Homo sapiens: one gene and its partners. The protein of the gene in region 1 purifies or fractionates together with the protein of each later gene. This does not show direct contact. Each region holds a gene or a part of one and is shown on either strand. Other genes may lie near its edges. The genes, in order: FCGRT, ANTXR1, TIMELESS and PCDH10.

Region 1 (7,024 bases):
TCCTGGCCTCAAGTGATTCTCTCACTTTGGCCTCCCAGGGTGCTGGGATGACAGGTGTGAGCCACTGTGCTTGGCCTTCCTTGCCTTAATGTCCTCATCAGACCCACGCAGCAGCACTTGTCTCTACGCAGCCATCAGAGTCTACGCTCCAGCCACCCAACATAAGCAATCTCCTCCCTCTGGGCATTTGCTCATCCAGTTTCCCCTGGCACCTCTCTGTTCCACCCTTCCCCCTCTCTGCATATACTCCAGCCCTCCTTATTCTTCAAGGTCAGGGCTGGATATCACTTCCTCTGAGAAGCCTTTCCTCAGCTCTGTAGGGCAGAGTTCACTGTTTCCTCCCCGGAGGCCCCCAGATCCCCACTCATTCAACTGTTGGCCAAGAGCATTTGCACTGCCAGGCGCTGCTCTGGGCCTTGAGCAAAGAGGGAAGTGACACACATTCACCCTCTGTGGCTCCCAGGCTGCTGGACAAAGATAGATACCAGCTGGGGATGTGCACAGATATTCATTCCAAGTGCCACAAAGGAGAAGTTGAGACTCAACCAGGTAGTTTTTCTTTAATTGTCTTCTTTCTTTCCTAAGTAGGGAAAATTTCTTTCTTTTTTTGAGACAGAGTTTCGCTCTTGTCGCCCAGGCTGGAGTGCAATGGCGCGATCTCGGCTCACTGCAACCTCCGCCTCCCAGGTTCAAGTGATTCTCCTGCCTCAGCCTCCCGAGTAGCTGGGACTACAGGCGTGCACCACCACGCCTGGCTAATTTTTGTTTGTTTTTTTTTTTTTAGTAAAGACAGGGTTTTACCATGTTGGCCGGGATGGTCTCGATCTTTTGACCTCGTGATCTGCCTGCCTCGGCCTCCCAAAGTGCTGGAATTACAGACGTGAGCCACTGCTCCTGGCCTTTGTTGTTGTTGTTGTTGTTTTTGAGACAGACTCTTGCACTGTCGCCCAGACTGCAGTACTGTGGCGCAATCTTGGCTCACTGCAACCTCCGCCTCCCAGGTTCAAGCAATTCTCCTACCTCAGCCTCCCGAGTAGCTGGGATTACAGGCACACACCACCATGCCTGGCTAATTTTTGTATTTTTAGTAGAGACGGGGGCTTCACCATGCTGGCCAGGCTGGTCTCGAACTCCTGATCTCGTGATCTGCCTACCTTGGCCTCCCAAAGTGCTGGGATTACAGGCATGAGCCACCACTCCTGGCTTAAGGAGGGAAAGTTTCAAACCACACTTAAGTAGAAACAATAGTATAAAACGGACCAGACACGGTGGCTCACGCCTATAATCCCAGAACTTTGGGAGGCCGAGGCAGGTGGATTGCTTGATCCCAGGAGTTCAAGACCAGCCTGGGCAACATAGTAAGACCGCATCTCTACTAAAAACTCAAAAAATTAGCCTGGCATGGTGGTATGTGCCTCTAGTCCCAGCCACTGGGGAGGCTATGGCAGGAGGATCGCTTGAGCTCAGGAGTTTGAGGCTGTAGTGAACTGATTGCAACTCTGCACTCCAGCCCAGATGACAGAGCCAGACCCTGTCTCAAAAAGAAAAAAAATATGGTGGCCAGGTGCAGTGGCTCACGCCTGTAATTCCAACACTTTGGGAGGCCGAGGTGGGCAGATCACTTAAGGTCAGGAGTTTGAGATAAGCCTGGCCAACAGAGTGAAACCCCATCTCTACTAAACATACAAAAATTAGCCGGGTGCGGTGGTGGGTGCTTGTAATTCCAGCTATTCGGGAGGCTGAGGCAGGAGAATCACTTGATCCCGGGAAGCAGAGGTTGCAGTGAGCCGAGATCAAGCCACTGCACTCCAGCCTGGGCAACAAAGCAAGACTCTGTCTCAAAGAAAGAAGGAAAGAAAGAGAGAGGAGAGGGAGAGAGAAAGAGGAAGGAAAGGAAGGAAGGAAGGAAGGAAGCGAGCATCCCATCACTGAGACTTAATAATTATCAACCCATGGTTTTTTGAATTTCACGCACATCCTCACTCACTTCCCCACCCCACTTCACATCAAGCTTTGGTAAATCTCAGACATCACAGTGTTTTTTTCTTTGTTTGTTTGTATTTTGAGATGGAGTCTCACTCTGTCATGCGGGAGTGTAGTGGCTCAGTCTCGGCTCACTGCAAGCTTCGCCTCCCAGGTTCAAACAATTCTCCTGCCTCAGCCTCCTGAGTAGCTGGGATTACAGGTGCCCGCCACCTCGCCCAGCCAATTTTTGTATTTTTAGTAGAGATGAGGTTTCACCATATTGGCCAGGCTGGTCTTGAACTCCTGACCTCGTGATCCACCCACCTTGGCCTCCCAAAGTGCTGGGATTACAGGCATAAGCCACCGCGCCTGGCCAATTTTTGTATTTTTAGTAGAGACGGGATTTCACTATGTTGGCCAGGCTGGTCTCGAACCCTCCACCTCAAGTGATCTGCCCTCCTCAGCCTCCCAAAGTGCGGGAGTCACCGTGCCCAGCCAGACTGTTTTGTTGATAAGTCCTTTAGTATGTAACTCTACTAGGTAAGGGCATTTAAAAAAAATTAATACCAAAACCATCATCACACCTACAACCAATTAACTCTTTAATGGCATCAGATGTCCAGTTTTTGTTCCCATATTCCTGACTGTAAATGTTTTTTAAAGTTTGAATCAGCATCCAGCAAGGTCCACACATTTTGTTGTCTTTTCAGTGTCTTTTTCTGATTGTTGAATTTTTCTTTCTTTCTTTTTTTTTTTTTTTTTCCTTTTTGAGACAGGGTCTTGCTCTGTCACCAGACTGGAGTCCAGTGGTGCAATCATAGCTCACTGCAGTCTGAACTTCCTGGGCTCAAGTAATTCTCCCACTTCAGCCTCCCCAGTAGGTAGGACCACAGGTGCACGCCATCAGGCCTAGCTATTTTTGTTTGTTTGTTTTTTGAGACAAAGTCTTACTCTGTCGCCCAGACTGGAGTGCAGAGGCACGAACTCGGCTCACTGCAACTTCTGCCTCCCGGGTTCAAGCAATTCTCCTGCCTCAGCGTCCCAAGTAGCTGGGATTACAGGCGCAAGCCACCACGCCCTGCTAATTTTTTGTATCTTTAGTAGAGACAGAGTTTCACCATGTTGGCCAGGCTGGTTTCGAACTCCCGACCCCAGGTGATCCACCCACCTCGGCCTCCCAAAGTGCTGGGATTACAGGCGTGAGCCACCGCGCTCGGCCGTATTTTTGTTTTTTTCTTTTTTTTGGAGACGGAGTCTCGCTCTGTCACCCAGGCTGGGGTGCAGTGGCGCGATCTCAGCTCATTGCAACCTCCACCTCCCAAGTTGCACCAATTCTCCTGCCTCAGCCTCCCGAGTGGCTGGGACTACAGGCGCCCACCACCACGCCCGGCTAATTTTTTGTATTTTTAGTAGAGACAGAGTTTCACTGTGTTAGGCAGGATGGTCTCGATCTCCTGACCTCCTGATCCGCCTGCCTCAGCCTCCCAAAGTACTGGGATTACAGGCTTGAGCCACCGCGCCCGGCCGGATTCCAATTTTTTACCAGATAGGTGTTTTGCAAATATTTCTTCCACTCTCTAGGTTGTCTTTTCATTGTTTTAACTGTGCCTTTCACAAAGCAAAAGTTTTTAACTTTGATGAAATCCAGTTTATTCTTTTTTTTTTTTCTATCGTGGATTATGCTTTTGGTGTTTAATCTCAGAAGTAATCACCAAACCCAAAGTCAGCTAGATCTTCTCCTGTGTATTTTAAGAGTTTTAAAGTTTTGCATTTTACAGTTAGGTCTGTGATTCATTTTCAGGTAATTTGAGTTACTTGTGATCTTGAGTGTCTTTTGATTTACAGGTTTCCCATTTTCTTTTTGTTTTTTTTCCCCCTGTAATTGTGGTTTGAAGAAAGTCAGTTTATGTCCTATTGAGTTTCTCCTAGACTGGATTTTGCCCTTTGCATCCTGTGATGTTGCTGGAAATAGTCCTCCTTCTCTTCTTTAAAGGAGCAGCTCCATCTAGAAGCTTGGTCAGATTCTGGTTCAATTTTTATGGCAAGAAAACTTTCTGGGTAGTTGGTGCGTATGTCTGTGTGCATAGGCTGCAAACATCTGCTTGCTTCTGTGCTGTTCTGTGGACCACTGGATTCGGGTGTTGTTATGAAGTTCTTTGTCAGGTTTTCTCCTGATGGTTTTAGCGGATAGCAATGGCCATTGCCTTAATCTTTTTTTTTTTTTTTTTTTTTTGAGATGGAGTCTTGCTCTGTCGCCCAGGCTGGAGTGCAGTGTTGCGATCTTGGCTCACTGCAACCTCCGCCTCCCAGGTTCAAGCGATTCTGCTGCCTCAGCCTCCTGAGTAGCTGGGATTACAGGTGCGTGCCACCATGCCTGGCTAATTTTTGTATTTTTTTTGGAGAGATGGGGTTTCACTATGTTGGGCAGGCTGGTCTTGAACTCCTGACCTTGTGATCCACTTGCCTCGGCCTCCCAAAGTGCTGGGATTACAGGCGTGAGCCACCGCGCCCGGGCTTTTTTTTTTTTTTTTTTGAGAGGGCGTCTCCCTCTGTCACCAGGCTGGAGTGCAGTAGCACGATCTCGGCTCACTGCAACCTCCACCTCCCAGGTTCAAGTGATCCTCCTGCCTCAGCCTCCTTAGTAGCTGGAATTACAGGCACACACCACCACACCCAGCTAATTTTTGTATTTTTAGTACAGACAGGGTTTCACCATGTTGGCCAGGATGGATTTTTTTTTTTTTTTTGAGATGGAGTTTCACTCTTATTGCGCAGGCTGGAGTACAATGGCATGATCTCAGCTCACTGCAACCTCCGCCTCCTGGATTCAAGTGATCCTCCTGCCTCAGCCTCCAGGGTAGCTGGGACTACAGGCATGCGCTGCCATGCCTAGCTAATTTTTATATGTTTAGTAGAGATGGAGTTTCACCATGTTGGCGAAGCTGGTCTTGAACTCCTGACATCAGGTGATCTGCCTGCCTCAGCCTCCCAAAGTGCTGGGGTTACAGACGTGAGCCACCATGCCTGACCTGGTTTGGTATTTTGTTAAACAGAACCAAAGGCCAGACAGATTTTCTGTGCTTGGATTTAGTCTATATTGGAAGTACCTTGAGGCTGAAGGCACGTGGCTGTGAGCACGACACAGGAAGATACAGATTTGCTGAAAAGAATAGTGAACATAAAGCAGAAGCCAGAACTGCTGATGGCCGTCAGCCCGGTCCCTCCATTCCACCTGACGGTGCAGCAAATTCTGCCGACTTGCCAGAGAGGCAGCTCCAGGAGGGAGAAGCTGCTGTGCTTTCCTGAAGCAGCAAATGTGTTTTCTGCTGAGCAACCAAAACCAAGATCCCAGCCAAGACCCACGATTGCCCAGATCCACCCTCCCTGAAAGGAACTTGGGCAGTAATGCCCAGTCCTAGGCAGTTGCTGAAATCTTTGCCTTTTATTTTCTTTTTTGAGCTGGGATCTTGCTCTGTCGCCCAGACTGGAGTGGAGTGCAGTGGCACAGTCATAGCGCCATGTAGCCTTGGACTCCCAAGCTCAAGAGATCCTCCCGCCTCAGCCTTACAAGTAGCTGGGACTATAGGTACACGTCACCATGCCTGGCTAACATTTTCTATTTTTTGTAGAGATGGGGTATTTGTTGCCAAGGCTGGTCTAGAAGTCCTGGGCTTGGCCGGGCACAGTGACTCACGCCTGTAATCCCAGCACTTTGGGAGGCTGAGGCAGGCGGATCACGAGGTCAGGAGTTCAAGACCAGCCTGGCCAATATGGTGAAACCCTGTTTCTACTAAAAATAGAAAAATTAGCTGGGCGTGGTGGTGTGCGCCTGTAATCCCAGCTACTCTGGAGGCTGAGGCAGGAGAATCGCTTGACCCCAGGAGGCGGAGGTTGCAGTGACCCAAGATTGTGCCACTGTACTCCAGCCTGGGCGACAGAGACTCCGTCTCAAAAAAAAAAAAAAAAAAAGGAAAAGAAAGCCTGGGCGTAAGGATCCTTCTGCCTTGACCTCCCAAGTGCTGGAATTGCAGGCATGAGCCATTGCACCCGGCTTTTTTTTTTTTTTTTCTTTGAGACAGGCACTTGCACTGTTGCCTAGACTGGAGTGCAGTAGCGGGATTAGAGTTCACTGCAGCCTCAACCTCCCAAGCTCAAGCGATCCTCCCACCTTACCCTTCCTGAATGGATGGGGCCACAGGTGTGTACCATCACACGTAGTTAATTTTTAAACTTTTTCAGAGACGGGGTTTCTCCATGTTGCCCAGGCTGGTCTTGAACTCCCGGCTTCCAGTGATCCTCCTGCCTCAGCTTCCCAAAGTGCTGGGATTACAGGCATGAACCACTGCACCCAACCTTTTTTCATTCCCTTAACGAAACCTTTGGATGAACAAAAATTCTTAATTTCAGTGAAGTTCAGTTTATCGACTTCAATTTATACATTTTATAAAGTTTATGAATTTTTTTTTTTTTTTTTAGACGGAGTCTTGCTCTGTCGCCCAGGCTGGAGTGCAGTGGCTATACCCAGGTGTGATCATAACTCACTCCAGCCTCAAACTCCTGGGCTCAAGGATTCCTCCTGCCTCAGTCTCCAGAGTAGGTGGGACCACAGGCACATCCACCACACTGGCTAATTTTTTTTATTTGTAGTGGAGACTACGTCTTACTGTTTGCCCAGGCTGGTCTCCAACTCCTGGGTTCAAGTGATCCACCTCATTCTCCCAAAGCGCTGGGATTGTAGGAGTGAGCCACTGCACCCAGCCTGTCTGCTAATATTATGTTTAAGAGTTCTGAATCTTTTTTTAAATTTTTTAAAATTTTTAATTTTTTATTTTTTTTGAGACAGTCTTGCTCTGTCGCCCAGGCTGGAGTGCAATGGTGCAATCTTGGCTCAATGCAACCTCCGCCTTCTGGGTTCAAGCGATTCTCCTGCCTTAGCCTCCTGAGTAGCTGGGATTACAGGTACACGCCACCATGCCTGGCTAATTTTTTTGTATTTTTAGTAGAGATGGGATTTCACCATGTTGGTCAGGCTGGTCTCGACCTCCTGACCTCGTGATCC
Region 2 (7,024 bases), on another chromosome or scaffold:
TGTGAGGCAGACATTTTAATGCCTATTTTATTAACAATACTGAAGTTCGGAGAGGCTAAATAATTTGCCCAAGGTCACAATGCTTGCTGAAGCATTGAGCTGATATTTAAAGCTGCAGATGCCTGATTCCGAAGGTGGCCTTCTTAAGCCCTGTGTTAAGCATTCCCATGAGGCACATTTCATGTAGGGAGACTTATGAGAAAGGAAGCAAAGGAGTGTCCTGGCTAGTAAACAACATGGCTTAAATGTATATGTACACACAGCAGGACCTGGCAACACTGAAGGGCAAAACATGGCCTCTCAGTGACCTTTGCTCTTCTGCCTTCATATTGTGTGTGGTTTCTTCTGCCACCATCTAAAATAAGAGCTCTGCCTATAGCCCAGCTCCAAGGTGTGTGCTGCCTCAGCTATATCCTCATCATAAGGCCATAACCATGAGCCATCATTATGGGGCAACTTTTCTTGTCTTCCTGTTCAGTCTTATGACTCACTGAGGGAGGGACCTGAATCAGAATCACCTGGGAAGCTTTTCCAAAATACACGTCTGCCTCAGGCCTCTGAAGTTGTGATCTGGCCCTTGGTTGAGAACCTCAGTTTAGCATATTCATTCCCAAGGTCTACAATTTCCACTGGAGCTTTTATCATGGAAGCTTCCCAATTTCTTCCTTCAGACAAATGCCCAGATGTGGTTCTTGGATGCTAGGAATCAACATCAATGGCATACCCTGCTCTGCCCTGCCTTCTTTTAGTCAGGAGTTCTCAACCAAGGTGGTACCAACCTTAGAAATAAGTATAGAGGCTGTTATTTATTGGTCATCACAATGACCAGAAAGGCTAATGGTATTTAGAAAGCAAGGATGAGGAATGCTAAAGCATCCCACAGTCCATCACAATGAAACACCGTCCCATCAAAAATGCTAACAGCACCCTCATTGAGAAGCACTAGTAGGAGCCCAGATACTCTTGATTCAAACTCAGAATCAGCCCCTGCAGTGTACAGGCATCCTCTGAGCTCTGCTGCTGCAGTGGTCTGTGTTCCATGGGCTGCTGTCTTTCCCCAGCCTTTCAAATTCCCTCGTATTCCATAAACTATGGAAAAAGAGAGTTTTATCTTTCAAATATATTCATGTAATACTTAGGTGGCAGGAGAGCATGTCTAATCTCCATTTCTACTTTCCATTTAATCTAATTTAATCCCCCGCCCACCTCACTGAATATTTCATCTAAAGTATGCAGAGAATGGGGAAGGGAGGAAAAGAGAAGGAGCTATCATTGCCTCTTGGGCATATTTGAAACATCACGTCTGACAGTAATTCTAGGTTGATGAATGCTGTATATCCAAGACTTGGCTCAAAACTGACCTTTCTCCAGAAGTCTTATCTCTTTATTCTCTCTCAATGGCTACTTCTTTCTTGCTTATTCAAGCCAAAGCAAGCTATAATTATACGTTTTCAGTAGAAGCTTTTATTGTCCACCCATATCTGGCTTTCCCTTCCATCTAGGCACATGGAGGATTATTCTTCAAGTCTTTTTCCATAAAGTGAGGCTATCTGACCAGTTCTGACCAACAGGCTGTGAGGAGAAGGATGCACGTCACTTCTGGCTGGAGCATTTCATGGCCAGCAAGACATCATCTAGCATTCTCTTCCCTCGCAGCCTTGATGGTGGCAGGAGGTATCAGGAAGGAATCTCCACCAGCCTGGCTCCCAGAACCATCACCATAAGAAGAGCCCTGCTGACTCCTATCAGACATGTAGTATATGCAGAGAATAAAACTTTTGTTGTTTTGTGTAACTGAGATTCGGGGGTTATTTGTTATCACAGCATAACCTGACCTACCTTGATTGATTCAATGTTCTTTTGCATATTTAGATTCTTTTTAACTTTGTGCATAGATTATGAGTCAGAGGGGCTTGGGTTTGAGACTTAGTTTCACCATTCAGAGTGACCTTGGGTAACCTCTCTAAACCTCGGTCTCCTCACGTGTGAAATGGTAATGATGACTGTACAGACCTTATGGGGGTTGTAAACACTAAACAGGGTCATACAGGCAAAGTGTTTACTATAGCGTCTGGCAGGTAGCAAGGGTTCAGTAAATGTTACTTCTTATTTCTTACTGATCTAAAATTGACTTTACTTGGCCCCTTTCCCAAATCCTCACTGAAGCCTTTAGCTCTGGCTGCCTAGAGTCCTCTAACTTTTCTCCATAAAAACCTGACAGCCTGGGACTTCTTCCTGTTTATTTTGCATTCCTTTTACCTCCCATAGCAGGACATTGCTTGCAATAGGCATTGTTTCATCCACGCATGTATTGGAGTACACACTTGTGATCAAAACTGAGTATGTCATCTATGCCAAATGAATGGAAGAATCTGCTGAGTCAAATTGGAGAAATCTAATTACTTTTTCAGTATGAACCTGACGTGTCTGAAAAACGTGTCAACAAATGTTTAAATATTCTCTTTGTCTTTTATTGCAGAGTAATCAGGGGGAGAGGCAAGATCCAGTCTCTTGGCCGCATACCAAACATAGACACACATTCTAAATTAGCATAGAGCAAATCCCATTTGCATTTATGTGACAGCCAAGTCTCCCTAATTGATCCCAGAATTTGTTTCTGGACCACTAGGAATCCTTTAGCATTTGGACATAATTACAGGTTATCTTGGGACAGGTGCCTTCCTCCAACACTCCTTGACACTGAGTTTAACCAGGTCTCCACAGCTAAATAAAGTAGAGGTAGTTACTTGGCTGACCCAGACAGAAACACAAAACAAAACAAAACAAAACAAAACAAAACAGTTTTGCCTTATTTATTTTTATTTTTGACCCATATGCCAAACTATCCAATTTGCAGGCAGTTCTACCAACTCTTGCCTGGCCTCAAAGGCCTTCTCCAAATGTGGAACTTAATTAGAGGAGCATTTAAAACCAAGCATTAAGTCCACCTCAATACAAAAATAATAATAATAAAAGAAATTCCTGGCCCCTGATAACTATTTTTCTGATGCCCTTTAAAATTATTATTGTAAAAGATAGTGTGGCAATTCCTCAAAGACCTAAAGACAGAAATACCATTCGACCCACCAATCACTTTACTGAGAATATACCCAAAGGAATATAAATTGTTCTATTATAAAGATACATGCATGCATATGTTCACTGCAGCACTATTCACAATAGCAAAGACATGAAATCAACCTAAATGCACATCAATGATAAATTAGACAAAGCAAATGTGGTATATATACACCATGGCATTTTATGTAGCTATAAAAAAGGAGATGATGTTCTTTGCAGGAACATGGGTGGAGCTGGAGGCTGTTATCCTTAGAAAACTAATGCACAAACAGAAAACCAAATACCGCATGTTCTCACTTGTTAAGTGGGAGCTAAACAATGAGAACACATGGACACATAGAGGGGAACAACAGACACTGGGGCCTGTCGGAGGGTGGAAGGTGACAGGAGGGAGAGGATCAGGAAAAATAACTAATGGGTACTAGGCTTGATACCTCGGTGATGAAATAATCTGTACAACAAAACTCCATGACACATTCTTATGTAATTTCTTTTTTTTAACATCTTTTATTTTAAGTTCAGGGGTACATATGCAGGATGCGCAGGTTTGTATGTACCCCTGAACTTAAAAGTTGAAAAAAAGAAATTAGAGTATGAAATGAGAAAAGAGGAGATAAAATTGTTATTTGCAGGTTATATAATTATATATCCAGAAAACCCAAGAGAATCAACTAGGAAATTATTTGAAACAGTAAAATAATTCACAACAAAATCAACACAGATACTTATACTCTTTATATGTCTAAGAGCAAACAAGTTAAAATGGAAGAAAATTTCCCATTACAATAACCAAAATGATCAAATACTTAGGAATGAAATTAACAATAAATATACAAGACTTATACGAATTAAAATCCAAAAATATAAAAAATATCTGATTGTAGCACCTTCAAGGTGCCTTCTATTGAACTCTTTGCTTTCCTTATTCAGAGCCAATTTTGCAGACACTAAGCCATCTTCCAATGTATTTCTGAAAATAAGCTACATCTGTGTGTTTTAGCATATTTACAGACTTCAGTTTCCTTTTTCTATCAGATTCAGTCTGAACAAATTACGAATTTATCATAATAAAATGTCCTGAACACACCTTAAAGTCTGACTCATCAATTAACCCCCTAGATCTCTGGAGCATTTCTCTGGGTTGCAGGGGGTTGGAGTTCCTGATACTTTCCATCAACTACAGCTGATTTAACAGCAGAGTAGTAGCTCCTCAATTAAGTAACTTTAATCGCCTTATGCACCATGATTTACTGAAACTCTGATGCGGGGATTTTGAATTCCTGGAATCTACCCAGTTCCTCTAGTTGTATTGCCATGTGCTTCTCATTATGGCCCAACTCTACAGGGAAGATGAGTGGAAAGAGCTGGTCTGGGAGTCAAGGGCAGACACTGTCCTAGCTCTGTCGTGATCTAATCCTAGGTCCTTGGGCAAGTCACTTAACCCAGTGGACTGAACAAAGGTTTTCTTATCTTCAAATTAGGGACAGTCATGCTTCGCCCTACCTACCAAACAAGGTTGTCTTTGGGACCCTTGTGAGAGAGCATGAGTCTGCAAGACTCACACAAGTTCCCAATCCAGTATTTCTTTTGTAAGTTAGTAGTTGGGAACTCAGAAGATATTTTCCCAGAAAAAAGCCAGTACTATACCTGATGGGGAAATTTCCAGCCTAATGCTACAAAAATCTATCTGATGATCCTGTCCCTGGAGTACAACACATAACAGTGGTCCTGCAAATCAGCACCAGCAGGGCATCATCCAGGTGTGGGTGCTGTGGTTGGAACTCTGGGGGAGTGGCAACATGGAATCCCTTTGTACAGTGGAAGAAAAAGAAAACTGGTGCCGAACAGAAGGGAAATGGCAGGGGGAGTCGGAGGTCTTACGGGGAAGGAGCACATGGTGAGCCTGTGGGGGGCCTTTAGACATATAAGGATTTATTAGGTGCAGAAAATGAATGACAGGCTGTGGCTTTGGCAAGTCCTATAAATAAAGCTGCTCAGCGTTTACTCCTGCCTTCCAGACCACCATCTCCACTCCTCCTGCTCTCTTTCCCACATTCTATTTTTGAAGTCTTCAGGGCACACATAACATAGCCAGCCACTTGAGATTCATGATGCAGAATCCACTATCTCCATTCAAGTGACTAATAGCTCCATGTAAAATAGTCCAATATGTAATACATAAACATATACGTAATAAGAGAGGGTGGGGGGGTGCTGTGAGAGAGGGAAGGTAGTTATGTCTGTGGGTTGGTCAAATGGGTGCATTCATCTTGGAAGATCCCCTGGAAGACTTAAAAGAGGCTAGCTGTTTCTTTGCTTTTTGTTGAACAGAGCCTTCCAAATCTAACTTTTCAAATCCCCGACTGAATTCCCAGCAATCTATTTTTCCTGACTATAACCAGAAAAGCATGTTTAAGTGAACATGAAATTCCATCAGTATAAAGCCTTGTGCAGCCCAGTCCACCAGCCCAGTCGCCAAAGCCACTAATAATGCCCTATTGTGTTACTGTGGTATTTTCTAGGTTATCATTATGAAGTCTTTGCTCCTGGTTGAGAAAACATGACGTTCCATTAAATGTATAATCTGGGTTCCCTCCAGGCCAGAGATGCAGCTTGCTTAAAGCTGAAATGAGCTGAGATTTAATGTCATGGGAAAAGAGAACCAGTTGCAGGGGAAGAAGGAGTTGCAGGGATTGGGAGAAGAATGGTGGATTCAGTCCCCTATGATCCCTCGGTTTCAGACTGTAGACAGTGTCTTGCCAGCGAAAGGATCTAAGAAGCCCAAGGAAAAAATGAGTCAGCATTTTTTCACTTTCCACTCTGGCTGTGGTTGGGTGCTGGACAGCACTGTGTGAGGAGGTTCTCTCTAGGACAGAAGATCATGTCTTTAGCGACCACCCAGGGGTCTGTTTGCCACCACTGCGTTTTGGCCCATCCCCTAGCTCTGGACTCATCAATCTCATAAATTAGCCTGGATGGAGGTGGTAAGCTGGTGGAGTGTGCACTACCGCACCAAGTTCTAGCAAGTTTTTCATTCAGCACAAAAATATCCTTCTCTTCCAGCAACAGAACAGCTAAAGGAAGTCAGAGGCATCCACCTGAATGTCTGTAAAGGTCTCCCCACCATTTCTTTTCCTGGAGCATTTTTGGGTCTCCAATGTGCTTCATAGAATCCTATGATGCACTCAGACATTTACTCCAGGATTAAATATAAAAGCAGCAGCATCCTTTACAACAGCAAGGGGCTTGGAAGTGAGCACACTGTTTAGAGACCCACTTGACATGATTTTCAAAACAAATTCAAAATAACTTATTTTTGTTGAATATAAAAGTAATGTATGTTCAGTACAGAAAAATTAAGAAAAACATGTAAACAAAATTTAAAATTCTACCTGCTAGAGACAAATAGTAGTACCATATTGGTAAATAGAGACATACACATGTGTGTGTTTAACTTTTTAAACAGGTGGAATCATAACGCAGATGACGTTTGGTAATTGCATTTCCATCTAAAAGTGTATAGTATGTTAAGAATTATGTATTTCTCCTAAAATAGCTTACAAGCTTGTATAACATGCAATGCAGGTTCAATACTATACACATATCATACCTTAGTAAATCCACTGCTGTTAGACACATGTAATCCTCAGCTTTTTATTATAAACAGCACCTCCATAAACATACATGTAGGTACTTCTTTGTGACTATTTGGATTTTTTTTCTTTAGGACATGAAATTGCTCGATGGAAAGGAACACCCCTCATTTTTTAAAAGCATTTTATATGTGTCGCCAAATTATCTTCTTGTCTGCACTATCCGGTATGGTAGCCACATGTGGCTATTAAAGTTCAAATTAGTTAAACTTATATAAAATTAAAAATTCACTTCCTCAATCGCACTAACTACATTTCAAGTGCTCGAGTCACATATGGCTAGTAGCTAC
Region 3 (7,024 bases), on another chromosome or scaffold:
GAAATGGGTCAGGAGTTTTGCCATGACATCTTATGCTCACTCACATTATAGCTTTTATCCACACTCTAGTGTAATTACCTTTCTACTTCCTGTCTCCACCACTAGAGTAAAAGCTCCTCAAAGGGAAGGAAATATGCTGTTCACTATTGCTTTCTATTACCGATGGATAGCAGATAATGGGCACTCTGTGAATGTCCAGTTAATTAGTTTTGTAATAGAAAAGACACTGATGGGGAAAGCCCTCTTTAGCTCTCTTGACATCCTAATACAATTCTTTCCCCACAGAACAAACAAAAGAAGAGAAGGAAGAAGAAGAAGAAGGTCCTAGACCAGGCCATTGTTTCTGGTAATGTCCCATCTAGCCCAGAAGAAGTGGAGGCTGTGTGGCCAGCCCTGGCTGAGCAGCTACAGTGCTGTGCCCAGGTAGGTGGTTACAGAAACCCTGTCTTTTTTGAGAATAGTGCTCAGGGTATACAATCTGGGTTTTCCACTCCCTCCGCTCCCATAGCTTTATCCATCTCTAGAATTCTGAGCTCAGCATGGACTCCGTGGTTCCCTTTGATGCGGCCTCAGAGGTGCCAGTGGAGGAGCAGCGGGCAGAAGCTATGGTACGGATCCAAGACTGTCTCCTGGCTGGCCAGGCCCCACAGGCCCTGACTCTCCTGAGGTCTGCTCGGTAAGAACCCTGCCTGCTCATCCTCTTGGGCTTTGGGGGAAGGAGGAGGCCATCACTGCGGTACAGTGTTCTCAGTCTTCAAAAGAGAGTTGTCTCATCAAGGCTCTGGGACTGTATACCAACTGACTCCTGGGGCGTTTTGATTGGTTTGTTGGGTTTTTTTGTTTCTGAAAAACATTAAAAAAGCATAGTTAATTGAGAAAAAAATAAAGAAAGCAAATCCTCACTTGACATCATCAATAAGTCCTTGGTAATTGCAGCTTTGAGTAAAATGACCTACGGCATGTTTCTTATAACGTTAAGAGAAAAAAAACTGGTTTTGTTATACATTGTTTCACTTAAAGTGGCAGTATCCAAGAACCTATTGAAGACATTAAGGGCGGACTTAACTTTAATTCTAGTAGCCAAAGATATGCATCATTAACATTTTGATGAGTAACCATCCAGAGGTTTTTTTGCTCCGTTACATGTAAAAATATCGTATATACCTTGTTTTACAAAAATGAAATACTGTACATGCTGATTTATAGTAATTTTTCACTTCTCAGTATATTATGAGCATGATTTCTCATCAGATATATTTCTGTAATTGTTAATGGCTTTAAAACACCATTGTGTGAATATGTACATTTGTTCAACCAGGTGTCAAACATTTAGATTGTTTGCATTTTGTTCTTAGCTGGTTTTTATTGAATTGTGGCTTATGAGGAAAATTTTCCCTGGAGTCTTTGTTTCATTTGAGGTAACAGTTTGCATTCTGTTTCTGGCCAACAAAAGAAATAAGTCTAAATTCCTTCTTCTACTTCGAATTATAAATTTAAAGCCAGATTTCCCCTGGGTAAAGCCTTTTTTCTATCTGTGCTCCAGGGAGGTGTGGCCTGAAGGAGATGTGTTTGGCTCTCAAGACATTTCTCCAGAGGAAGAGATCCAGTTGCTGAAACAAATCCTCTCTGCTCCACTTCCCCGTGAGTCTCCACCCTTCACATCTGTCTCCTTCCAGCTCTTTTCTAGCACCAACATAACAGAGACTCAGTAATCCTCCCTCTGTCTATAGGGCAGCAGGGCCCAGAGGAACGTGGGGCAGAGGAAGAAGAAGAGGAGGAGGAGGAGGAAGAGGAGGAGTTGCAAGTGGTCCAGGTGTCGGAGAAAGAATTTAATTTTCTGGACTACCTGAAACGGTGCGGGCTGAGAGGCCTGAGTTGGTCCTAGAGTGGCGATTGTGCGGCTGTGAGGATGAGCTATGTCTTCCTTATGCTGACATCCTCTCCCTCCTTGTTTTGGTGCAGCTTTGCATGTTCAACTGTCGTTCGAGCCTATGTGCTGCTACTAAGGAGCTACCAGCAGAATAGTGCCCACACTAACCATTGCATTGTGAAGATGCTGCACCGGCTGGCCCATGACCTCAAAATGGAAGCCCTACTTTTTCAGCTGTCAGTCTTCTGCCTCTTCAATCGTCTGCTTAGTGACCCTGCTGCTGGAGCCTACAAAGTGAGGGGATAACAAGGAATGGGGTTCTGGAAGGGTATGGGAACCCTCAGGTAAATAAATAATCTTCAGGAGATAGAAGGTGCTGAGAGGTGTCAAGGGCTGGGAGATGGGAAAACAATGAGAAAGTAGACAGGCAGGTTGAGGGAGCTGCATGGAGAAGGACAGAAGAGAGTGAGTGAGGAGGGGGCAGCTGGGAACAGCTATAGAGAAAATACCTAGAGGGCCAGGTTCGGGTCTGCATTGGACCAGAGAGGCCTCATAGTAACCTCCTTCTCCTACAGGAGCTAGTGACTTTTGCCAAATACATCCTGGGCAAATTTTTTGCACTGGCTGCAGTCAACCAAAAAGCCTTTGTGGAGCTGTTGTTCTGGAAGAACACAGCTGTGGTTCGAGAGATGACTGAGGGCTATGGCTCCCTGGATGACAGGTGAGCTTGAAGTTGGCAAAGGGTGGGTGGGGGTAGGGGAAGTTTGATGCAGAGTCACAGAATGTCAAAGCTGTTAAGAGCTTGCATGTCATTTAGCCCACTGTTTCTTTCCCTATTATGGGTGAGAGAACAGGCTCAGGAGGTGAAATGCTTTACCTAAAGTTATCCAAGAGAGGAGCAGGGACTGGAGCCTAAGTCTAGTGTGTATCTAGTTTCCTTCTCCATCACCAGCCTCCATAGAGGTAGTCACTGTTGGGAGCTGGGTGGTTGCCCAGAGGGAGTCTGTGTGCGACCTCTCCCAAAATGTGCTGGGAAACCATGAGGATTTGTAGAAATGTTTGTCCTCTTTCCCTTAGTATCTCAGCCCCTCTCCTTTCACACTTAGTCTCTTTTTCCCATAATATTCTCAGTCCCTAGAGTCAGAATGGTCAGGGTTCCATTGGCCCAACCTGGAAAATCTCTTAGTTTGACTTTTAGGTTCTTACGTGGAAGGAAAGTGAGGGGAAGGAGGCACACTGTAGGCCTCTGCTGGCTGGCCTCTTTCAGTTACCTGCCTTGTCCTTCCTGTTCTTTTCAGAACTGATCAGAGAAGGCCTTTGGTCTCCTCTTTTTGGGCCAAGAACCTATATGCTCCCTTTCTCCTTTCACCATTCAGGTCTTCCAGTCGCAGAGCACCTACATGGAGCCCCGAAGAAGAGGCTCATCTTCGGGAGCTGTACCTCGCCAATAAGGACGTGGAAGGTGAGAGGCCTTGGGATCTGGAGAGTTTATGAGGAGGGCAGCTTGAGCTGTGGGACCTTCTTTACTGCCTTAGTCCTTCCCCACGCCAGGGCAGGATGTGGTGGAAGCCATCTTGGCCCACCTGAATACTGTTCCTCGAACACGCAAGCAGATCATCCACCATCTGGTACAGATGGGACTGGCTGACAGTGTCAAGGACTTCCAAAGGTAGAGAGGCACATGCTCTGGAGGCTATTGGGATGGGGACTCGTGATCACTTCCTGGGCTTCCTCTTCCACTGACACCTTCCTAATCAGGAAAGGAACCCATATTGTACTGTGGACGGGGGATCAGGAGTTGGAGCTGCAGCGGCTTTTTGAGGAATTCCGGGACTCAGATGGTGAGTAAGCTGGAAACTCAGGGGACCTTTGAGATGAAAGCCAAGCTATCCATTTATTTTGGGGCTGCCTTTTATTCCCAAGGAAAGATTCTCCCATCCCTTCTGTTCACTTACTATATTTGTAAGTGTCATTTTTGGATGAATTGAGGTACCCTCTTTCCAGAGACCTCTGATTTATTTTACTCATCTCTTTCCCTGTTACCCTTGGGTATTCACATGCTTGCTTTTTATAGATGTCCTGGGTCATATCATGAAGAATATCACAGCCAAACGCTCACGGGCCCGAATAGTGGATAAACTCTTGGCTCTGGGGCTGGTGGCTGAGCGGCGGGAGCTGTACAAGAAACGGCAGAAAAAGTTGGCATCCTCCATCTTGGTAACAATCTGACCCTAGCTCTGCTGGCATGGGCTCACTTCCCTTGAAGTGGTCCTTAGGAGCAGTCCACCTGGATTCTTCCTGCCTGAGGCTGTTCTGACCAGGTCCTTCCGAGAGAGCAGGCGCGGGGGGGTGCGGTGGTCAGGAACGAGGAGACTCCACTAAGTTCCTTGTGTTGCCTTCATTTTCATTCCCCCAACCCCCAATGAATTTTAGCCAAATGGAGCGGAGTCCCTGAAAGATTTTTGCCAGGAAGATCTGGAAGAAGAGGAAAACCTGCCTGAGGAAGACAGCGAAGAGGAAGAAGAAGGGGGCTCAGAAGCAGAACAAGTCCAGGGTAGCTTAGTCCTTTCAAATGAAAACCTTGGTCAAAGCCTGCATCAGGAAGGTGAGGACTTTGGCTGGGAGAGATGTCTCAGGTGGAGGGCTTGGGAGTAGGGTCAAATGTAAGTTTCCCTCATTTCCTTAGGCTTTTCTATCCCGCTCCTATGGCTCCAGAACTGCCTGATCCGAGCAGCTGATGATCGGGAAGAGGATGGTGAGTGGACAGGTGACACTTTTAGGAGAAGAGCCCTGGAGGCTATTGGAGACCTACCTGGTCATGGGATGGAGAACCAGTTCTTCCCTTATATCTTCACCATATGACTATTGACCCTGTCTTAGGCTGCTCCCAGGCCGTTCCATTGGTGCCACTCACAGAGGAAAATGAGGAAGCCATGGAAAACGAACAGTTTCAGCAGCTGTTGCGCAAGCTAGGGGTTCGGCCCCCTGCCTCTGGGCAGGTAAATATGTCAGTTACAGTGTCAACCAAGGCGTGTTAGTCCTATTTCCAAATACATCTCCTCCTCCTCCTCACTGTCATGGTGGTCCTCCTTATCCTTATCGTCATCTTGGTCCTTCTCATTGTCTTGTCATCTCTGACCAAGATTCCTGCAGCAGCCATTCTGCTAGTCTTCTTTTCCTCTCTCTAATCTCCCCTTCCCCTAGATCCATCTTCCAGACTGCCTCCAGATTTATCTTTTTAAAATATAGTCTTGATTACAGTTGTCCCTTAGTGTCTGAGAGGGGATTGGTTCCAGGACCCCCCTGCCCACAGATACCAAAATCTATAGATGCTGAAGTCCCTTTTTGTAGTATTTGTAAATAACCTAGGTACAACCTGTATACTTCGTCATTTCTAGATTACATATAATACCTATACAATGTAAATGTTAGGTAAATAATTGTTATACTGTATTGTAAATATATATATATACATTTTATTTATATATATATATATACACACACACACACACACACACATATATATATATATATATATTTTTTTTTTTTTTTTTTTTTTTTGAGACAGAGTCTCACTCCATCACCCAGGCTGGAGTGCAGTGGCTCAGTCTCAGCTCACTGTCGCCTCAACCTCCCAGACTCAGGTGATCCTCCCACCTCAGCCTCCTGAGTAGCTGGGACTACAGGCCTATATTACCACTCCCAGCTAATTTTTTGTATTTTTTGTAGAGATGGGGTTATGCCATGTTGCCCAGGCTGTGTATTATTGTTTAATGTTGTATTGTTATTTTTTTTTAATATTGTCGATCTACAGTGGTTTGAATCCACAGACTCAGAACTTGTGGATATGGAGGGTCAAGTCCTCTGTCCAGAGCCATTGATGGTTCCTTACTGCTTGCAGGACAGAATCCACAAACTCCAAATGGCATCCCCATCCTTGGCCAACCTTTGCAGCCTCACAGCCACACCACTCACACACCGACTTTACATCATAGTCACCCTGGTAGGCTTTTTCATGCCTCCAAATGGTTAATCATGCCAGTCCCTCTATTGGAAGGCTGCAACCGTGCACACAGGGTGACACACACACACACACACACACACACACTCCATCTGTCTTACTGATGGACCTCTACCCAGTCTTCAAGAGTCTGCTCAATTGTCACCTTGTCAGAGAAGCAGTCCTTGTCATTCTTTCAACCCCTGAAGTAAAAATAATCACTTTTGCAGCTGTGATTTGTTCATGCCCCTGATGCAGCCTTAATCCTGTGGAATCTGCTGGGTATGGTGGCTCACGCCTGTAACCCCAGCACTTTGGGAGGCTGAGGCAGGCGGATCACCTGAGGTCAGGAGTTCAAGACCAGCCTGGCCAACATGGCAAAACCCTGTCTCTACTAAAAATACAAAAATTAGCCCGGTGTGGTGGTAGGCACCTGTAGTCCCACCTACTTGGGAGGCTGAGGCAGGAGAATTGCTTGAACCCAGGAGGGTGAGCCTTTATTGCTTTGCCACGGCACTCTAGCCTGGGCAACAGAGTGAGACTCTGCCTCAAAAAGAAAAAAAAAAAAATCCTGTGATACTACAGTACATTTGTTCTTTTTCCCATTGGATTGTGAGTTATTTGATAGCAAGGATCATACCTGATTCACCTTTACATCCCCAGGATTTATTTATTTATTTATTTATTCAATTGACAACTATAGCCAGGTGTAGTGGCTCATGCCTGTAATCCCAGCACTTTGGGAGGCTGAGGTGGGAGGATCGTTTGAGACTGGCCTGGGCAACACAGCAAGACCCTGTCTCTACAAAAAATTTTAAGTAGTTGGGCATCATGGTGGCATGCACCCCTGTGGTCCTGGCTACTTGAGAGGCTGAGGCAGGAGGATAGCTTGATCCCAAGAGATCGAGACTACAGTGGACCATGATTGTGCCACTGCACTTCAGCCTGAGTGACAGAGGCAGACCCCTTCTCATTTAAAAAAAAAAAAAAAAAAAGAACAACCAAAAAAACCTATAACTGGGAACCTCCTAATGTAGCAGGCACTGTGCTAGGCACTGGGTATATATTAGATAGTAAGTATTATAATAAATAGAGTTCACAACCCTTGTGGATCTTCACCAATATTGGGTCATATATATTCAATGAATATCATA
Region 4 (7,509 bases), on another chromosome or scaffold:
AGAATGCATGTTCAATGTCTGTCATCAACCCACCTCCCCAAAACCAAAAGAAAATATATGCACACACACACATATATATATGCATATGTATACACACACACACACACACACACACACACTTTGGAATCAGTATCACAAACCAGTGCCCAATTTAAAAACATTCCTGGACCTCTTATTGATCAATTTCTCTTACAGAAAGGAGCAGAGTATAGTATCTGAACTGAAACAGTATTATTAGAAAATGATATTGTGAGCATTAGGATGTATAATTCATGTTGCTTTCATTTGCTCAGACCATTGTAAAAATCCATAAATCATTTTTTGTTCATGTATTGCTTAAGTGCAATTTGTCATTTTGCATTAGAGGGCTGCTTCAGCTCATTCAGTGCTTTTAATTCACTGTTTAGAGTTTAACAAAATGTTGTCCCTGCTTGATAACTGAAAAGGCACTGAAATGTGAAGCCACCCCAATATTAACTAGGTTAAACAAAATGGAGAAGCACATTTCTACTTTCAATATCAAGATAATGGTGCTTGATGGGATATCTAGTATTTTCAATCCCAAGAACAAGGATTGGTTTGTTCTCTGATGGGCTTGAAGGATTAAAACACAGTAACTAAAGAGTTACCTGAATACTTAAAATTGCATATGCTATAAATCTTTCCCAGAAATTCCAGTCAGCATTCACTTTTTACTATAGATGAACAAAAACTAACACAATGTTTGTGGCATTGGTTCCAAAGCCTTGTCTTCCCACCTCTTAAGTTAGATTACACTACCACAAATAAACCTATTTCATGCTTACCCATAAAAGATGCAATGCACTTTGGGTCTTTTGTATTTGTTCTCTGAGCTGTGCTTGCTGAGAATGACAAGTGCCAGGAACAACCATCTAGGTCAATCCTGGTGGAGCCTGGTTATTGATAAAGTAATTTTTCCTTCCAATTCTAAAAAAAAAAAAAAAAAAAACTTCCCTCAAAGCTCTGGGCACATAGCAATAATAAGAGGATTTAGAAACAAATTGCTTTCAAGTCATGTTAAATCACTGCAAACACTCATTTATCCAAAGGCTGGTTAACAAACTTGTTTCTGCCCCACCCTTTGCAGCAAAGGGCAGAGAAGAAAGCAATCCCTTAACCCAGTTTCAAAGTTTGTAAAACACACTTGTGGGATCCTTAGCGCCCCCCTGTTTCTGCTGCACTTAAAGCCCAATGAAATAAAAAATGTGCACTATCACTCTAATATATAAACCAGGACTTTTATGAAAACTGATTTTGATAACCTCCCTCCAAATAATAAAACTATTCCTCTGTTTCTTAGGGTGCAGTTTGTCCTGGCTCAAACAGTTTGCGCTCCTAGGGGGTGGACGGGGGAGGGTGAAGAAGGGATTACGTACAAAATATTTCCTTCTCCTTTTCCGCTCCAGTAACGGGGGGATTGAGGAACACAGAATATACATGATGCTCTACACTTCAAAGAGGTAGTCAGCCTCATTACTGAGGCTGCCGTATATACAAACCTCATCTCACTAAATTCTGGGGTCCACGGGAGTAAGAATGAAAAAGAAAAACGAAAGGCAGGGATCTGTTTGATTGACACAGCAAGGGAAAAAGTAAACCTGTTACATTTTAGAGGCATTTTAAAAGGCAAATTTAAAGTGTTGTTTTGTTTTGTGGGTGACGGGGCATGGTTGTTTTAAAGGCTCTAGGGTAAAGGGGCATAGAAGGCTATTAATGCCACTATCTGATCTTGGCTCCAAACAAAATGCTCTTGGAATTGCCCTTGGCTGGAGCTATCTAGCGGGAGGCGGAGGACCAGGCTCTGTTCTGTTCGGCCGGGAAGAAGACCCTACCGTCACTCCGCCGGTCCCTGGCTGGCGCCACAAAGACTAGAAGTCGGAGAGGCGAGACCTCTAGGGGGCCTGGGCTCAGCGACGCTGGTGCGGACACAGACCCCTATGACCCAAGAAATCTTGTAGAGCCCCCAAAAGGCGAGCTCTCCAAAGCAAAATTCTCTGGCCTGCCCTATGCTGATTTCGCCGCTAGGAGACGCCTGTAACCCACGTTTGCGGAGAGAGTTCCATTCAAACACATCTGCTACCAAAAATAAAAATAAAAAATAAAAAAAAATAAAAGCAGCTCAAGTGTTACAGTGGATGTAGTGATTATTTACAGGCAAATCTGGCCATCTCATCTCCACCTCTGGAAGCTCTCTGGCTTTCAGCATATGCCCCAAGTCAGCTCAAACTTCATCTACATTTCAGGGGTAGAAACCCTCTTCCCCAGTTTCTGGATCTGCATTGTCATTCAGCTGCATGTCTCCCACATGCAAACACGCGCGCACTCGCGCGCACACACACAAGTGTTTCCATACGTACAAATGAACGCATTAGAAAATTACCGTCATTTTTTAAAAGGCTCCAGGATTCTGACGAGTCAGCTTGAAGAGCTCAAAACATTTCATTTCAATTCTGCAGATCTGAAGAAAAAGAAAGGGGGGAGGGGTGGAAGTACAGATGCAATACCGTATTAATATTCAGATACACTATAATCTCCTTTTCATTGATCCACAGGTCCCTTTATACACTGCCGCTCCATTCTCAGCCGCAGACGTGATGCTAAAATCATTTTAACTGCAGCGGTTTTCGCTTGGCTTTGGCCAGTCTTCAATTTACTGCAGCTGGAAAAGGATTAGCCATTTTTGCTGGAATCCTTTCCTTCTAAGCGCTCAAAGGCAGGACCCATCTTCATGAAAGAGCCAAGTGCGGGGGCCGGGGGGACCCGGCGTTGCGGGGAGTTGGGGCGCGGAAATCAGGGCAGTAGACGTGCATTCGCGGGACTCTCAGAAGCACGTCTCAGGCTACTATCACGCCCATGGACACTAGCCCTCCTTAACTCCTTGCCAGGAGGAAATGGCAACGTATCTCCAGGTCGGAAAACGACTCTACTTTTCCCGCAGGTTGTGGTGGTGTATTCTTGGGTCATTCATTACCAGAAAGCAGCAAAGGACCTTCCTATCTCTTTGCATAAAAAGGAGATTGAATAGGGGCTTCTTTCGTGAATAAACAACCAATTCCTTGCTAGTGGCCCATTAATTAAAAATATATATTTATAGATCTTTCCTTAGAGAACTGGCATTCTATCCACTCTCCAGCATTAAAGAGTTCGCGCTGTGTTTTAACTTCACAAGAACTAGCTATGTGGATGTGCCGCGTTGCCCCTGCGCCTCCGGAAGGGGCACTCACAGCTGGTCAAGCGCGTCCTTCGGAACTCGGGGAGGCTCCGTTGGGGCTTACACAGAGCTAAGCCCTGGGCCAGGGAGGATGGATGCAAGTACCGTGCATGTGCAAACGTGTTCGCAGATACCCGCAGCGGTGCACACTCGGGCCCCTCGTGTGCACGGGCCCTGCCCACCACCCCGCCCGCGTTCGCCGCCGCCCCACTGTCCTCATCCCGCGGGCTGACCCCAGGATTGGCAGAAATCAGTGGTCTAATCTAGCATGGTGGGTAAAGGGATCGATCTCCAATTGCCAAAAAAAAAATAGAAAATAGCCGGTGTTCCCAGCCGCTGCGTGGCACTTGGCCGCACAAGGCGCAGGGATATCAGAGGCGCTTTGCAGCGCTTGGCGGTGCTGTGTGCCGGATGCCCCAGAGCCCGGCGTTAGGATGGCGGGCTTGTAGGAAGCGGCTCAAATCAACTCCTCAGTCACTGATGAACGCGCTCACGGCTCGAAGCTAGGTCCTCGAGTGAGTTAATCTACTTGGTAAGTATTTTGTGAATATGTATTTTGGGAGGAAAGAAGCACGTCGAACGCGTCTGCCCGTCTGTAAGCGCTGTCATCCCCACATCCTTTAGCGTGAATTCCTCCGCTTTTTAGGAGTCACCTCCACCCCCTACTCCGTATGCTTCGCGCCTTTCCTCACGGCCCCGTCAGACCCCCTCACCTTTAGATTGACACATGCCATATAATACTCACTTTTAAAATGCCCTGCCAGTCTCTGCTAGGGTCCCTTAATTAGGTAACCCTTGCCAATTAGTGGGCCCTGCGCTACTTTTTCCCTTCTCGATGATTTATTTCCATGATGCGTATTAGGGAAAATACCTTAAAGGAAAAAGAATGTTAGCATCATTGGAAATCCCGCTCCTAGGAGAGGATATCGCAGCTGTTGCTATTATGTTTTCGCATTTGCTGATGCAAACAGGGGAACCTCTCTATTCCCTCCCCATTACCTGCGGCTGGGGACTGGGAACTTTCCGCGGCATTGTCCCCAGCCAGCGCCTCGGGACCTGCGGGGCTGTTCTCGCTCTCACACTCACACTCACCCCGGCCGCTCGGGCGAGAGTTCTGTCCCGCCCCGCCCGGCTGCCGCGTGACGTGTCTGTTTGGCGGCCAGTTTGGCCAATCATCGGCAGCTCGGTGGGTGGTGCTCCTGGGCGATTGGTTGGCAGAATGAGGGCGCTGCGCAAAAACGGAGAAGCCGAGCGCTCGGAGCTCAGAAACTGCCAGCCCAGACCACAGGCTCAGAGGCTGAAGCAGGAGGAAGGAAGGACTGGAAGGAAAAAGAGACAGGTTAGAGGGAAAGAGGCTTGGGAAGAAAACAGCAGAAAAGAAACTGCTCATTACACTTACAGAGAGGCAAGTAACGGTGGAGATGAGGACAGAGGGAACCAAGACTCTGAAAGACAAAAAATACAAATAGAGCGAAAGAGGAAAAAAATGTCAAGAAGAACATCCATCCGGAGAAATGAAGAGAATGAAAGTTTTAAGCTGCAGAGCCGTTCTGTGCTTTTCCGGCACAAAATTATATCGCTGATTTTAAGCCCTTTTGCATTTGCCAGCCGTTGACATTAAGAGGCATGTTTAACGGTGCCAACAGCATCTCCTTTTCCTTCTCCTCTTCCTCTTCTTCTTCTTCCTCCTCCTCCTCCTCTTTTTCCTCCTCCTCGTTCTCCTCCCATCAGCAAGAAGACAAACCGAGGACAGTCTTGAAATATCGAAATTTCCTCTTTGGGATTTGCCAGCGCCAAGACTGTCGGAATAAAGGACGCTGACTATTGTATTATTGTTATTTTATTAATTAGTCAGTGGAAAGATTACAGATGAGGAAAGGGGACGCCTGTCACCCTTCCTGTGCTAAGATTTAAAAAAAAATGAGGCTGGATTGCGGGAAGCTCTAAAATGAAGCAAAAGGAGTAAGATTTTTAAAGACAGAAAGCCACAGGAGCCCCCACGTAGCGCACTTTTATTTGTATTTTTTCAGATTTTTTTTTGTTTCGTGGTGGTGGGGGAGGTGATTGGGTGGCTGACTGGCTGCGGGAAGCTACTTCCTTTCCTTTTGGAGATGATTGTGCTATTATTGTTTGCCTTGCTCTGGATGGTGGAAGGAGTCTTTTCCCAGCTTCACTACACGGTACAGGAGGAGCAGGAACATGGCACTTTCGTGGGGAATATCGCTGAAGATCTGGGTCTGGACATTACAAAACTTTCGGCTCGCGGGTTTCAGACGGTGCCCAACTCAAGGACCCCTTACTTAGACCTCAACCTGGAGACAGGGGTGCTGTACGTGAACGAGAAAATAGACCGCGAACAAATCTGCAAACAGAGCCCCTCCTGTGTCCTGCACCTGGAGGTCTTTCTGGAGAACCCCCTGGAGCTGTTCCAGGTGGAGATCGAGGTGCTGGACATTAATGACAACCCCCCCTCTTTCCCGGAGCCAGACCTGACGGTGGAAATCTCTGAGAGCGCCACGCCAGGCACTCGCTTCCCCTTGGAGAGCGCATTCGACCCAGACGTGGGCACCAACTCCTTGCGCGACTACGAGATCACCCCCAACAGCTACTTCTCCCTGGACGTGCAGACCCAGGGGGATGGCAACCGATTCGCTGAGCTGGTGCTGGAGAAGCCACTGGACCGAGAGCAGCAAGCGGTGCACCGCTACGTGCTGACCGCGGTGGACGGAGGAGGTGGGGGAGGAGTAGGAGAAGGAGGGGGAGGTGGCGGGGGAGCAGGCCTGCCCCCCCAGCAGCAGCGCACCGGCACGGCCCTACTCACCATCCGAGTGCTGGACTCCAATGACAATGTGCCCGCTTTCGACCAACCCGTCTACACTGTGTCCCTACCAGAGAACTCTCCCCCAGGCACTCTCGTGATCCAGCTCAACGCCACCGACCCGGACGAGGGCCAGAACGGTGAGGTCGTGTACTCCTTCAGCAGCCACATTTCGCCCCGGGCGCGGGAGCTTTTCGGACTCTCGCCGCGCACTGGCAGACTGGAGGTAAGCGGCGAGTTGGACTATGAAGAGAGCCCAGTGTACCAAGTGTACGTGCAAGCCAAGGACCTGGGCCCCAACGCCGTGCCTGCGCACTGCAAGGTGCTAGTGCGAGTACTGGATGCTAATGACAACGCGCCAGAGATCAGCTTCAGCACCGTGAAGGAAGCGGTGAGTGAGGGCGCGGCGCCCGGCACTGTGGTGGCCCTTTTCAGCGTGACTGACCGCGACTCAGAGGAGAATGGGCAGGTGCAGTGCGAGCTACTGGGAGACGTGCCTTTCCGCCTCAAGTCTTCCTTTAAGAATTACTACACCATCGTTACCGAAGCCCCCCTGGACCGAGAGGCGGGGGACTCCTACACCCTGACTGTAGTGGCTCGGGACCGGGGCGAGCCTGCGCTCTCCACCAGTAAGTCGATCCAGGTACAAGTGTCGGATGTGAACGACAACGCGCCGCGTTTCAGCCAGCCGGTCTACGACGTGTATGTGACTGAAAACAACGTGCCTGGCGCCTACATCTACGCGGTGAGCGCCACCGACCGGGATGAGGGCGCCAACGCCCAGCTTGCCTACTCTATCCTCGAGTGCCAGATCCAGGGCATGAGCGTCTTCACCTACGTTTCTATCAACTCTGAGAACGGCTACTTGTACGCCCTGCGCTCCTTCGACTATGAGCAGCTGAAGGACTTCAGTTTTCAGGTGGAAGCCCGGGACGCTGGCAGCCCCCAGGCGCTGGCTGGTAACGCCACTGTCAACATCCTCATAGTGGATCAAAATGACAACGCCCCTGCCATCGTGGCGCCTCTACCAGGGCGCAACGGGACTCCAGCGCGTGAGGTGCTGCCCCGCTCGGCGGAGCCGGGTTACCTGCTCACCCGCGTGGCCGCCGTGGACGCGGACGACGGCGAGAACGCCCGGCTCACTTACAGCATCGTGCGTGGCAACGAAATGAACCTCTTTCGCATGGACTGGCGCACCGGGGAGCTGCGCACAGCACGCCGAGTCCCGGCCAAGCGCGACCCCCAGCGGCCTTATGAGCTGGTGATCGAGGTGCGCGACCATGGGCAGCCGCCCCTTTCCTCCACCGCCACCCTGGTGGTTCAGCTGGTGGATGGCGCCGTGGAGCCCCAGGGCGGGGGCGGGAGCGGAGGCGGAGGGTCAGGAGAGCACCAGCGCCCCAGTCGCTCTGGCGGCGGGGAAACCTCGCTAGACCTCACCCTCATCCTCATCATCGCGTTG

Evidence for each region.
Region 2: the proteins of FCGRT (region 1) and ANTXR1 purify together in Homo sapiens (affinity purification with mass spectrometry; 2 studies listed by BioGRID and IntAct, with this or other methods). This does not show direct contact.
Region 3: the proteins of FCGRT (region 1) and TIMELESS purify together in Homo sapiens (affinity purification with mass spectrometry; 2 studies listed by BioGRID and IntAct, with this or other methods). This does not show direct contact.
Region 4: the proteins of FCGRT (region 1) and PCDH10 purify together in Homo sapiens (affinity purification with mass spectrometry; 2 studies listed by BioGRID and IntAct, with this or other methods). This does not show direct contact.

Annotation. Positions count from the first base shown.
Region 1 is NC_000019.10:49,515,651-49,522,674, forward strand, and holds part of FCGRT (IgG receptor FcRn large subunit p51 isoform 1 precursor), read left to right. Parts: intron 1-463; coding exon of another isoform or gene 464-549; intron 550-6,044; coding exon of another isoform or gene 6,045-6,163; intron 6,164-7,024. UniProt on the Homo sapiens protein: Cell surface receptor that transfers passive humoral immunity from the mother to the newborn. Binds to the Fc region of monomeric immunoglobulin gamma and mediates its selective uptake from milk.
Region 2 is NC_000002.12:69,016,172-69,023,195, reverse strand, and holds part of ANTXR1 (anthrax toxin receptor 1 isoform 1 precursor), read right to left. Parts: intron 1-7,024. UniProt on the Homo sapiens protein: Plays a role in cell attachment and migration. Interacts with extracellular matrix proteins and with the actin cytoskeleton and thereby plays an important role in normal extracellular matrix (ECM) homeostasis.
Region 3 is NC_000012.12:56,418,414-56,425,437, reverse strand, and holds part of TIMELESS (protein timeless homolog), read left to right. Parts: intron 1-285; coding exon 286-423; intron 424-524; coding exon 525-676; intron 677-1,543; coding exon 1,544-1,641; intron 1,642-1,730; coding exon 1,731-1,854; intron 1,855-1,962; coding exon 1,963-2,164; intron 2,165-2,445; coding exon 2,446-2,591; intron 2,592-3,246; coding exon 3,247-3,332; intron 3,333-3,421; coding exon 3,422-3,539; intron 3,540-3,628; coding exon 3,629-3,711; intron 3,712-3,944; coding exon 3,945-4,087; intron 4,088-4,303; coding exon 4,304-4,475; intron 4,476-4,556; coding exon 4,557-4,625; intron 4,626-4,750; coding exon 4,751-4,869; intron 4,870-7,024. UniProt on the Homo sapiens protein: Plays an important role in the control of DNA replication, maintenance of replication fork stability, maintenance of genome stability throughout normal DNA replication, DNA repair and in the regulation of the circadian clock.
Region 4 is NC_000004.12:133,144,798-133,152,306, forward strand, and holds the start of PCDH10 (protocadherin-10 isoform 1 precursor), read left to right. Parts: upstream 1-4,496; 5' UTR 4,497-5,343; coding exon 5,344-7,509.